Homo sapiens: one gene and its partners. The protein of the gene in region 1 purifies or fractionates together with the protein of each later gene. This does not show direct contact. Each region holds a gene or a part of one and is shown in the gene's direction. Other genes may lie near its edges. The genes, in order: ALK, ERAP1 and TUBGCP2.

The links.
Region 2: the proteins of ALK (region 1) and ERAP1 purify together in Homo sapiens (affinity purification with mass spectrometry; one large-scale study listed by BioGRID and IntAct). This does not show direct contact.
Region 3: the proteins of ALK (region 1) and TUBGCP2 purify together in Homo sapiens (affinity purification with mass spectrometry, with the first as the bait; one large-scale study listed by BioGRID). This does not show direct contact.

The regions. Positions count from the first base shown.
Region 1 is NC_000002.12:29,914,996-29,918,647, reverse strand, and holds part of ALK (ALK tyrosine kinase receptor isoform 1 precursor), read left to right. Parts: intron 1-3,652. UniProt on the Homo sapiens protein: Neuronal receptor tyrosine kinase that is essentially and transiently expressed in specific regions of the central and peripheral nervous systems and plays an important role in the genesis and differentiation of the nervous system.
Region 2 is NC_000005.10:96,790,844-96,794,495, reverse strand, and holds part of ERAP1 (endoplasmic reticulum aminopeptidase 1 isoform b precursor), read left to right. Parts: intron 1-449; exon of another isoform or gene 450-509; intron 510-538; coding exon 539-693; intron 694-982; coding exon 983-1,096; intron 1,097-2,303; coding exon 2,304-2,435; intron 2,436-3,652. UniProt on the Homo sapiens protein: Aminopeptidase that plays a central role in peptide trimming, a step required for the generation of most HLA class I-binding peptides.
Region 3 is NC_000010.11:133,295,299-133,298,950, reverse strand, and holds part of TUBGCP2 (gamma-tubulin complex component 2), read left to right. Parts: intron 1-839; coding exon 840-999; intron 1,000-1,546; coding exon of another isoform or gene 1,547-1,630; intron 1,631-3,652. UniProt on the Homo sapiens protein: Component of the gamma-tubulin ring complex (gTuRC) which mediates microtubule nucleation.

The DNA.
Region 1 (3,652 bases):
CAGAATACATACTAGTATGTGACCCCCAAGAAAAACAGAGTGCGGATGCACATTTCAACATTAGTGTTAGTGACACTGGCACCTAAAGTGAGCCCTTTTCATTTAGTGCTGGAATTTATATAGACCATCCTAAGAGGCACTGATGAGTTTGATAGTGCCTTCAGTGAACTGAGATGGAAGACTGATACTGTTGTTCCACCCAAGATGTTTTTGTAAAGAACAGCTGGGCTTTAATGTCATTGTGGTTTGTGTGGTTTATACATGCAACATTCTGTTTTAGTGCCCAGTGTTTTAGTAATGGATATAAAAATGACTTCTCTGGAAATGCAGATTATCTTCTAGTTTCATGCCTCTGAGCATCTGTGGAGCTTCCCCATCACCTTTTATCAAATGACCATAGAATCCAGCAGTCTGTATCAGCTGTTGTCAGATGTTGGTGACAGGCAAAAGGGCTCATTTCTACAGCCCCGAACCTGCCAACTGTAAACAGGTAGGTTGCATGAAGCTATCAGTGGGTGTCTCTGAAGAGTCACATGCTTAATTCATTTAAAGAATATACTCCACTCAAGTCTTAAATAAGGTGTTGGAGCTGCTGAGTGGGGAGGTTTATGTAGAAAGGCTGTGCTCCAAGGGCTTCTCTGCTATTGGCTGTAGGGAAGCATTGTGGGCATCCCAAGCCCTCCCTCAGTGGCCCAGTACATTTGGCAGCTGGACCAAGCCCTTATGCATCATTTGACACATCTAGCAATGCTGATTTCAGTAGGAGCCAGGATTCTGCCATTAAAAGGCAAGAAAATTTGGCCAAGCATTTTTCAGCAGGATTGGAATCAAATGATTATTGATAGGATCAAATAAGACACTAAGTGTAACTGGATGAGCTCCCCATGACCTCCAGAGAGACAGCCAGCCTATTGAAAAGCACTTCGGGCCTTGTGGTGATCATACTTGGAACAGCCTGGTCTCTCCTTTCTCTGAGGACATATGCTGTCTGCAGTTAGGCAGCTGGCCATGCAGGACTAGCCTCTCTCACATTATCATTGCCTCCCCAGCCTCATTCAGATACAGTCTCCATTGCAGACATCCCCATGGAGTAGATACACCTTGCTATACCATGTTCTGTGTTTCAGACAACATGTATCATTATGGTTCCGTTCATTTTCCCTATGAAAATTCAAGGTTAGGTTCTGACACTGGGATTGATTTTGCTATTTATCATGTTTGGAGAAATGGGTTTATTATTTTTATATAGGCTCTGATTTATAGAAAAGGCATTTAACTCTTCTATGATGTGGGCTCTTCAATTATACAGAAGGAAAGTAGGCACAGCTCAGCTTATTTTCTTCCTGTGTCTGCCCAAGTGTCTTGTCTGGAGGTACACAATGATGCTGATGGGGCTATTTGTGGGGGAGGGAAGAGCTGATTGTTCTTCCATGTTTTGTGGTGAGGGGCCTGGAGCAGCCCATTTGGCTCAGACCAAAGATAGCTTCCTAAACCTGAGCAGGACCATGACTAAAATAGTAAAAATGAAAAAGCACCAGTTAGGAGAAAGCAAAACCGTTGCATTGCTTGTGATTTGGGCTGTCTGAGAGGACAGAAAGATGTCTGAGAGGCCTTATAATGCATGAAATGCTAATGGTTTTTCCTTGTGGGTTACTGTGAATTCAGAAATAGGATCGGCATTTCAAGTCTGAGGCAGATCCCAAATTCACCCATTCATGGAGAAGAGGTGAAGAGGCAGTTTCTGGGACTGTATTAATGGTTCTGGCCTCTCCCAGGACAGCCCAAATCATAGAAAAGATGTCTGTCTGCAAGGCTGGCATGTTGCCCACAGCTCCAGTTTGTATCCTGGCTTACAGGTGTTTTGAGATCTGTTTCTGCTGTCACCCAGGCAGAGGGCTAGGGGATGATGACTCATGGGATAGGAGGCCTATTTCCCTGTAAGCACTCCCTCCCCACCCAGGAAAGTGGATACATGACTTTGGATTTTACATGTACTATGGAGAGGCCTGAGCAATTTAGAGATGTATGCAATGCAATATATCTGACCTTTGAACTCCCATATCTGTCAGTCCCTTCCCATTTCATTTCTGGAGTGGGCAGAGAGAGCAAAGGAGGATGGAGAGGAAATTGGAGCTCCCAGAAGGGATATCAGTTATTGGAGGTGAATTGGGAGAATTGGAACTAGTCCAGAGAAGAGCAGAGAGCTGATTTAACAGTTGAAGGGACTGATTTACAATGAAAGATGAAAAGAATTAAATATATATGGCTGGGCTAAATGGCGATGAAGGGAAAGCCATGGTAACAATCTACAAATCTCTGAAGAGAGAGAGTGGCAGTGAAGGAGAGGAGTTATTTAGCGTGGCCCATGGAAGTAATTGGATCATACTTGTAGAAGCAAACTTCGGGTTGGATATCAGGGAAACCTTGTTTTCTGACATTGATATTCCTCTGACTATGGAATGGAATTCCAATGGAGTGGGGAGTCAGGTGAGATGTGGGTCAGACAAGTCCCAGCATTCCTAATTAATCAGTTCTATATTTTCACATATTGAGAAGCTACAACAGGACAGAGAGCTGGGATGCAGAATGGCAGAAGGAATCAGAACCTTTTTATGATCCAAACCCTGGAGCCTTTGGGCATTGGTGTTTTTAGAGGAAAAGAAAAGAATTGCATATACATCTTTGAAGTTGGTGAGAAGCACTTAAGAAATTGTTAATGACAAATATTTTGAAATTACTGAATTTATTCTTCCCTGCCCTCCAATTAAACATAGATTATTTCTCTGGGGTGCGATCTGTATATCCAGGGGTTTGGGAGGCACAATCACCAGAGAATTGTGTATCTAAGATACATCTATGGGTGAGGGTATATGACAAAGCATCACTGAGCAGGGCAAAAGGTGACCTGTGTCTTGAGAAGATGCCATCAGTTCTAGATTTGGTGGACTCCTACTGGCTACTTAAAAATCCCTTTAAATGTTGAGAATCTATATTGCCATTTGAAAGATGAAGTTCATCCACATCCAATTTAACATTTCAAAAATTTTTAAAAGAGAAAGAAGGTCCATGAGGGGTTTTTGTGTAAGGCATGGGAGGAGAGTGTGATTATTAATAAAAATGGGTATCTAGGCTGGCCGCAGTGGCTCATGCCTGTAATCCCAGCATTTTGGGAGGCCGAGGAGGGCAGATCACTTGAGGTCAGGAGTTCGAGATCAGCCTGGCCAACATGGTGAAACCCTGTCTCTACTAAAAATAAAAAAATTAGCCAGGCATTGTGGCATGCGCCTTAGTTCCAGCTACTCAGGAGAGTTGCTTGAACCTGGGAGTTGGAGGTTTCAGTGAGCTGAGATTGTGCCACCTCACTTCAGCCTGGGCAACAGAGTGAGAAAGGAATATCTATAAGGAAGTTGGTCTGCTGAAAATCAGGAGGAACTGGCCTGAAGGTGGGAGAAGAAAAGAATGAGAGTTGATCAGCAGAAGTCTCAGTGCCCTGCCACTCAGGATCACTGCCTGGCAACCTCACAACATGGAAATTTTTCCAGTCTGACCTGTAAAGGAAATTTTGCCTTTCTTTATAATCATTATTAGTGTCCTGTTATGGTTATTTGGAACTTTACAATTTATAAAGCATGTTCACATTTATTATTACTTA
Region 2 (3,652 bases), on another chromosome or scaffold:
TGAAAAGGCGGGCACGGTGGCTCATGTCTTGTAATCTCAGCACTTTGGGAGGCCCAGGCAGGTGGATTACTTGAGCCCAGGAGTTTGAGGCCAGCCTGGGCAACATGGCAAAACCCTGTTTCCACAAAAGTACAAAAATATTAGCTGAGTGTGGAGGTGCACTCTTGTAGTCCCAGCTACTTGCAAGGCTGAGATGGGAGGATCACCTGAGCTTGGGAGGTTGAGGCTGCAGTGAGGTGTAATTATACCACTGCAAATGCACTCCAGTATGGGTGACAGAGTGGGACCTTGTTTCCAAAAAAAAAAAAAAAAAAAAAAAAAAAAGGCCTGAGATGCAAGTCTGACTTTGCCACATTTATAGCAAAGTGATGCTGAGTCACTAAGCCTCTTTTTCTCCATTGTGAAAGGTTCTTCCAGTCTAGAGCTCCATGATTATGCACGGGCAGCTGGTTCAAACACCTATCCATTCTGAAGATTAGTGTTTGGGAGAATGTATAGCTTAGAGACTGGTAATGTATTTTATTACTTCCTTCCCAAGATCTTGCTGCTATTCCCGACTTTCAGTCTGGTGCTATGGAAAACTGGGGACTGACAACATATAGAGAATCTGCTCTGTTGTTTGATGCAGAAAAGTCTTCTGCATCAAGTAAGCTTGGCATCACAATGACTGTGGCCCATGAACTGGCTCACCAGGTATAAGCTCATTCACACTTTTAATAAAGTATAAACTACATTTATATTGCTTCTATGGGACATATAAGGCTATTTATATAATTTTTACTTTGTCTTTTTTTAATAGGAAAAATTGTTTCTCCAAAGCATTCGTTTTTATGTCTTATAATGCATGTTGAACTTTTTTTATTTTTACCTTGATTAAATATTGGTCCTGTAAATATATGTTAACATTCATAAACTTATATTGGACATCTAAAATATACTTCTTTCTGAGTGTCTTTGTTTATGGCTTATGTTGTGCTTTTAGTGGTTTGGGAACCTGGTCACTATGGAATGGTGGAATGATCTTTGGCTAAATGAAGGATTTGCCAAATTTATGGAGTTTGTGTCTGTCAGTGTGACCCATCCTGAACTGAAAGTTGTAAGTAGTTATTTATCCTTCACATTTGAGGTTAATTTGTTGTTTTGTTCAATATTGCTGGAAAATATTCACTAATCTTTGATTATAGAACTTATAAAAATATTTCACTGATAACTTCCTTGACAGTTTAGATATGAATCGTGTTGCAAAAATGCTAGTGAACTTTCAAGATATACCACAAAGACTTATTTACAAACTCAGTTGTGAATCTATGATTGTTTGTAAATTGTCCGATTTTATATTTCTTAATATCAAAGAAATAGAAATAATGGCAGCCTAAATGTTCCATTTCATTTTCCCAACCTTCAGGTTGCTCATTGCAGAATTATTAGGTACAGATTACTGATATCTCAATAGGACCCTACTTGCCAAATCAAATGAGTTATACTTAAGGTAACTGCACATTTGATTGTATAACAACCTAGGCTTCTGGATCACAAATTTATTGCTTTGGAACTGCTATATGGTTTATTTTTTAAATCACCACATTTAACTTAAGAAAATCACATATAGCAAAATTAAACTTATGTAAAAATTTTTTTATCCTACTCCAATGATTCTTTTCATTTGTAAATATTTATTCCTATTTTCATCTGCCTGTATACATTATTTAAAATATACATTTGTGAATATTTATTACTGCCTATTTTCATCTGCCTGTGTACATAATTAGAAAGTACACATCAATATTGCATTATAATCCTAAATATTTTCTTATGTTTCTACATGATCTTTAGTAATAAAAATGATTATGGATACATATTGTCCTGTTGAGCTAATGTGCTCTAATAAAGCTGGTTAAGGTTCTCCATTTATTTTCATTATGTTTTTAAAGGTAAGTATCTTTGCTCTAAAACAGTACAGACAATGATTGGAAATGTTGAAATTACTATACAGTTAATTTCTTGTTGTGTTGCTGTTTGGCTATAGGCATAATTGTTTCGTTTTTAGATTAATACGAAATTTTCTTTATTCTAAAGGACTTAAGATGAACAAAATCTATAATGTTTAACTAAAATCATTGTTTCTTGGGTAGCTTTTAGAATATATTAATTCTATTTTGTTTCATAAATATTAGGAAATATGGAATAGGTTGCCCCCAAAATGTGAAGTATGGACTTCTTGCCTCAGATAAAATGTCCCACCTTTGACATTTTTTATCTAAATGTAAATCATAGGTGATGTTTTCTTTTTTCTATCTCAATAGGGAGATTATTTCTTTGGCAAATGTTTTGACGCAATGGAGGTAGATGCTTTAAATTCCTCACACCCTGTGTCTACACCTGTGGAAAATCCTGCTCAGATCCGGGAGATGTTTGATGATGTTTCTTATGATAAGGTAAAAGTAGATTGAGTATAAGGATACAGTTTAGATACTAAAGTTATACATACTGGGGTGGAGAAGTTATAGGCAAGGTTGTGGGGTTAAACCCAGATTGAATGCCTTCTCTCTTGACACGTGCTGGCTGGAGTCAACTCTTTTAGGACTAACTTGCAGTTTGGCTCATAACCCTAAAGATTATTTTATGGGAAATTCTTCATATATTCTTTCTTGGGTTGAAAATTCATGGCTTACAGAAACTCTGCTTTTATTCATCATTCAACAAATAGGTATTGATTGAGCATCAACTTTGTACTAGACAAAAATTCCTGCCCTCGTGTAGCTTACTTTTCAAGGCCTTCAGCAATGGTTAATATTGTTGAGACGCAAATAATTGTCTTGCACAGTGTGCTTAGTAACAGAGTTGGGAATTGTTGACAACAGTTTAATGATTGGGAGATTTTATGTAAAATCCAGATTTCTAGCTTCTCTTGGGGAAGAAAAAGGAGGATTTGGCCACTGTATGTTCTTTGCAGCATAAGCTGGAGCTAAGTTGTTGTTCTCTCTTTGTAAGATCAAGGCTCTGCTTTTCCACTTTCCCTGCCATTCCCAACTGTTCTATTGTCTTCTCACCGAGGCTGAGAGTGTGTTGCCAGTTACCATTGTGCTTGGCTGTTGTTTTACCGGTAGCAAACAGAAAAGTCTTTCTTGCTTGCATGTTTCCATTGAAAGTCCAGGGGAAAAAGAATGTAAAAGAGCATTCTTCTTATCCTTGGACTACTTCCCTTATTTATATGCCCTGTCATGTGCCACTGGAGGCATTTGAGTTTGTGACTCACCATCCGTGGTAATGGGAGTGGAGGGGAAAAGAGCCCTTTACCAAGGAATACAGGGTGTCTGGGAAGACTCTTGTTCCCTTTCTCATTGTGACTCCAGCTCCATCAGCCCTCCATGCTCAAGGCTGCCTGGGCTCCCTGGACATATCCACTTTTCCTTCCCTGGCATCTACCTCTGCCTCCATCTCTAGTGCTCCACCCCTTGTTGTACTGGCCTCTCCTTAGTCCTGCCCTGGAATGGCAGTGGGAGAGCCAGGTAGTAGCTCAAGGTCCAATGTTTAATCTGCACCATTATCCCCACTCACATGTGAACAAAGGGAGTTGGCAGATGATGCTAATTTGCCCCATCGGGAGGTCTGGCTACTGATAGAAAATAAGGGCCTCAGTGGGCTCAGAGCA
Region 3 (3,652 bases), on another chromosome or scaffold:
CCCAGTCTCTCTCATTAGAGCTGCCACGTTCCTGCCTTTGTGACCTTTAAACTCCCTTTGGAGCTGTGTCCCTGAGGCGTCCTAGCCTCCTGGGTGCGTGTTGAGTGCAGCGGCTCCCAAGGACCCAGCCGGTTCTTGCTGGGCACGTTCTGTGCTGGACATGGTGCTAGGCCTCTGTCCACGTCTCCCTCAGCCGTGGCAGAAGACTGGGTCTTACTGCCACGTGCAGAGACAGTTTGCATCTGCCCGTGTCCCTGACCAGCCCTGAGTGGGAGTCAGTGCTTCCGAAAGCTGGGCCAGCCCAGGCCGACCCCATCAGCCTCTGGCGGCCACTGGCGCAGGAGGGCAGGCTCTCTGACCACATGTCAGGAGCCATCCTGTCACGCTGGGGCCCTTCTCCGGCAGGGTAAGGATGCATGTCTGTTGCTGAAGCCTGTCTTCACCCATCAAGTGGTGTTCAGACCTAGTCACTGCCAGAAAGAAGCAATTCAGCTTGTTCACAGGGCGCCCTCCTTTGAAACAGCGGCTCTGTGCCTAGGTGCACCCTCTCCCGTGGTTCCCACTGCTGGTGCTCATGTTTTCCCAGGGGGGCCCTTGCAGGACCTGCACTCCTGAGAAGAGGGGCTAGGGCTCCCCATCTGCCCTGTTGTCCCCAGCCCCTCACGTTGTGGCAGGCAGGGATGTCGAGGCGCATTTCATTTCTATGTGGTTGACCCTTTGTGGGTGTTGAATTGAGTAATCATCTTTGCCGTAGATGCTAGCTTCTATGCATGTCTTTAGTTGAGTGTTTGCGCTAAAGTGTATCTTTCTGGTTTTGTTTTTTAAAATGTCCTTGCTAGTCTCTGGAACTTAAAAGAAAGATGCTTCGAGACAAGCAGAACAAAAAAAATTCAGGCCAGCACCTCCCCATCTTCCCAGCATGGGTGTATGAGAGACCTGCCCTGATCGGGGATTTCCTGATTGGTGCTGGCATCAGCACAGACACCGCTTTGCCGATAGGTACGTGATGCGTTGATTTCCGGGCTCTGCCGATAGGTACGTGATGCGTTGATTTCCGGGCTCTGCCGATAGGTATGTCATGTGTTTATTTCTGGCCTCTGGGCAGGACACTTTGCAGGCCCAGCCCTCCCCCGGGCCTGCCTTTCCTCAGGTTGTGAGGCTCAATGCTGACTGGCTGCCGCCTCCATATTCCCATCCCAGGATGGCAGCAGAGAACGGCTCACCCGGGTCCTTGAGGGTTCTTCTCCTGTCCCTTCTGCCAGAGCTGTGGGGCAGCCTGCAGCAGGCCCCTCCCCAGCCGGCATCCTGGTGCCCTGGTGCAGACCTGCAGGCATCAGAATTGTGTGCAGCACTTATTTCTGAACAGCGATTCATGACTCCCATAGATTCTGTTACAGCAGTATTCTCAGAGGCCTCTTAAGTAGTGTTCGTGTAAACAAGATGCGGGTGAGACCACACAGTCATTTCAAGACGTTGTTATTGGGGACCTGGGATGTGTTCATCTGTCACAATTCATGGGTACATTTTTATTTTTATTTATTTTTAGTTCTTTTGAGATGGAATCTCGCTCTGTCGCCCAGGCTGAAGTGCAGTGGCGTGATCTCGGCACACTGCAACCTCCACCTCCCAGGTTGAAGCGATTCTCCTGCCTCAGCCTCCCAAGTAGCTGGGACTGCAGGCGCCACCACGCCTGGCTAATTTTTATATTTTTAGTAGAGACGGGGTTTTGCCGTGTTGGCCAGACTGGTCTCGAACTCCTGACCTCTGGTGATCTGCCCACCTTGGCCTCACAAAGTGCTGGGATTACAGGCATGAGCCACCACGCCTAGTCAAGTACATTTTTAGATTGAAAAATGAGATTTCACAAACTAAGGACAGAGCATACCTGCTTATCTTGCCCCATCCCCGTTAGTCCAAACTCAAGAGGCAGCATGGAGCGTGGTCTGCTTCCCCACTACTCACGGCTCTGCAATGTGGGCACCAAGGGGCCAACCCTTGCCTTTGCCGGAAACCCTGGAGAACGGTGACGTGAAATCCACCTGTTTTCCTCATCCCCAAGCAAACAGAACCCTGCTGTAAGTTAATGAAAAGTATAGAAAAACCCTGCTGTAAGTTATGAGAAGTATAGAAAACCATGCTGTAAGTTAATGAAAAGTATGGAAAACAGTCTACTTCGGCCAGGCATGGTGGCTCACACCTGTAATCCCAGCACTTAGGGAGGTGAGGTGCGTGGATTCCTTGAGCCCAGGAATTCGAGACCAGCCTGGGCGACAGGACGAGACTAGTCTCTACAAAAAATGTGAAAATTAGCCGAGTGTGGTAGCGTGCACCTGTAGTCCCAGCTACTCAGGAGGCTGAGGTGGGAGGATCACTTGAGCCTGAGAGGTCGAGGCTGCAGTGAGCTGTGATCGTGCCACTGCACTCCAGCCTGGGCAACAGAGCGAGACCCTGTTTCAAAAAAAAAAAAACAAAGCAGTCTGCTTTGTGCAGTGTTTTCAGTAATAATCCAACTGTGAAAACCCAACTGTGAAGACTTAGGGAGAGAGAGCTGCTCCCTTAGCGGGTACTCAGCAGGCAGCCGGGGAGTGGTGGGCACCTGAGAGCTCCTGATGGTACCCAGGCAGACTTCGGAGAAGGAAGCGCGGGGCCCTGCTGCCTGGGATCCCAGCAGTGGAGCCGGCTTTTTGGAGCAGGAGGCACTGAGGGGGTGTTCAGGCTTTCCCCCCATGTTTCCCCATTCAGGGAAGGGGTTGTACAAAAGAGGAACGCACTGTCCAGTAACGCTGCGGCGCCGTGGGCAGCTCTGAGCGTGGCGGTGATTGGCAGCAAGTGTGTGAGACTTGGCTGTGAACCCTGCAGCCAGCTCTCAGGTCAGGGTGCAGGTGCCCTCAGCACACTCAGCATCCCAGGAAAGGGGCGGCCTCGCCCCACCTCCCTCCCACGGCCACATACCACAGGTCCCAGGGGTGCCTCCGGTATTGAGGCTGCCTTGCCTCCCTTTGTCCGCACTGTCCCTGTCCCCTTGTGCCACCTGTGCAGACTTGAGAATGGAGCTCACTGTGGTGTTCATGCCGGGGCCTGTCTAGCTCCTCACCCCACGATTTGACCAGTGCCACACCACGGGACCTTGTGTGACCTCGGGCCTGCGTCCTCTGGAAAACAGCTGTGGAGTGGTGTGATGAGGACAGGTGCCTTGGAAAGCATCAGGACCTTGTGAGCACGAGGCAGCTGCCAGCACTCCACGTTCCCGCCATGCTCTCCTCACCGTGTGGGCATCCACCTGGCCAGCGCCGCCTCCGCAGTGCCCCTCCCTCTGGTCGCTCCCGCGCAGCATGCGAAGGTGTTATCTGCCCGCGTCCTGCCTTTTCCCCACACCGGCACGGAGGAGCCACGTGTTCGGTGGTCGTTCGGACGTGGTGATTTGCAGGTGACATCGCAGGTGTTGAGATGACACTGAGGATGTTGAATATTGGGGAGGTGAAGCAACTGACTCTTTTTTTGCTTGAGACAGGGTCTCACTTCGTTGCCTAGGCTGGAGTGCAGTGGCACAATCTCAGCTCACTGCAGCCTCGACCTCCCAAGCTCAGGTGATTCTCCCACCTCAGCCTCCCGAGTAGCTGGGACTGCAGGTGTGCACCATCACACGCAGCTA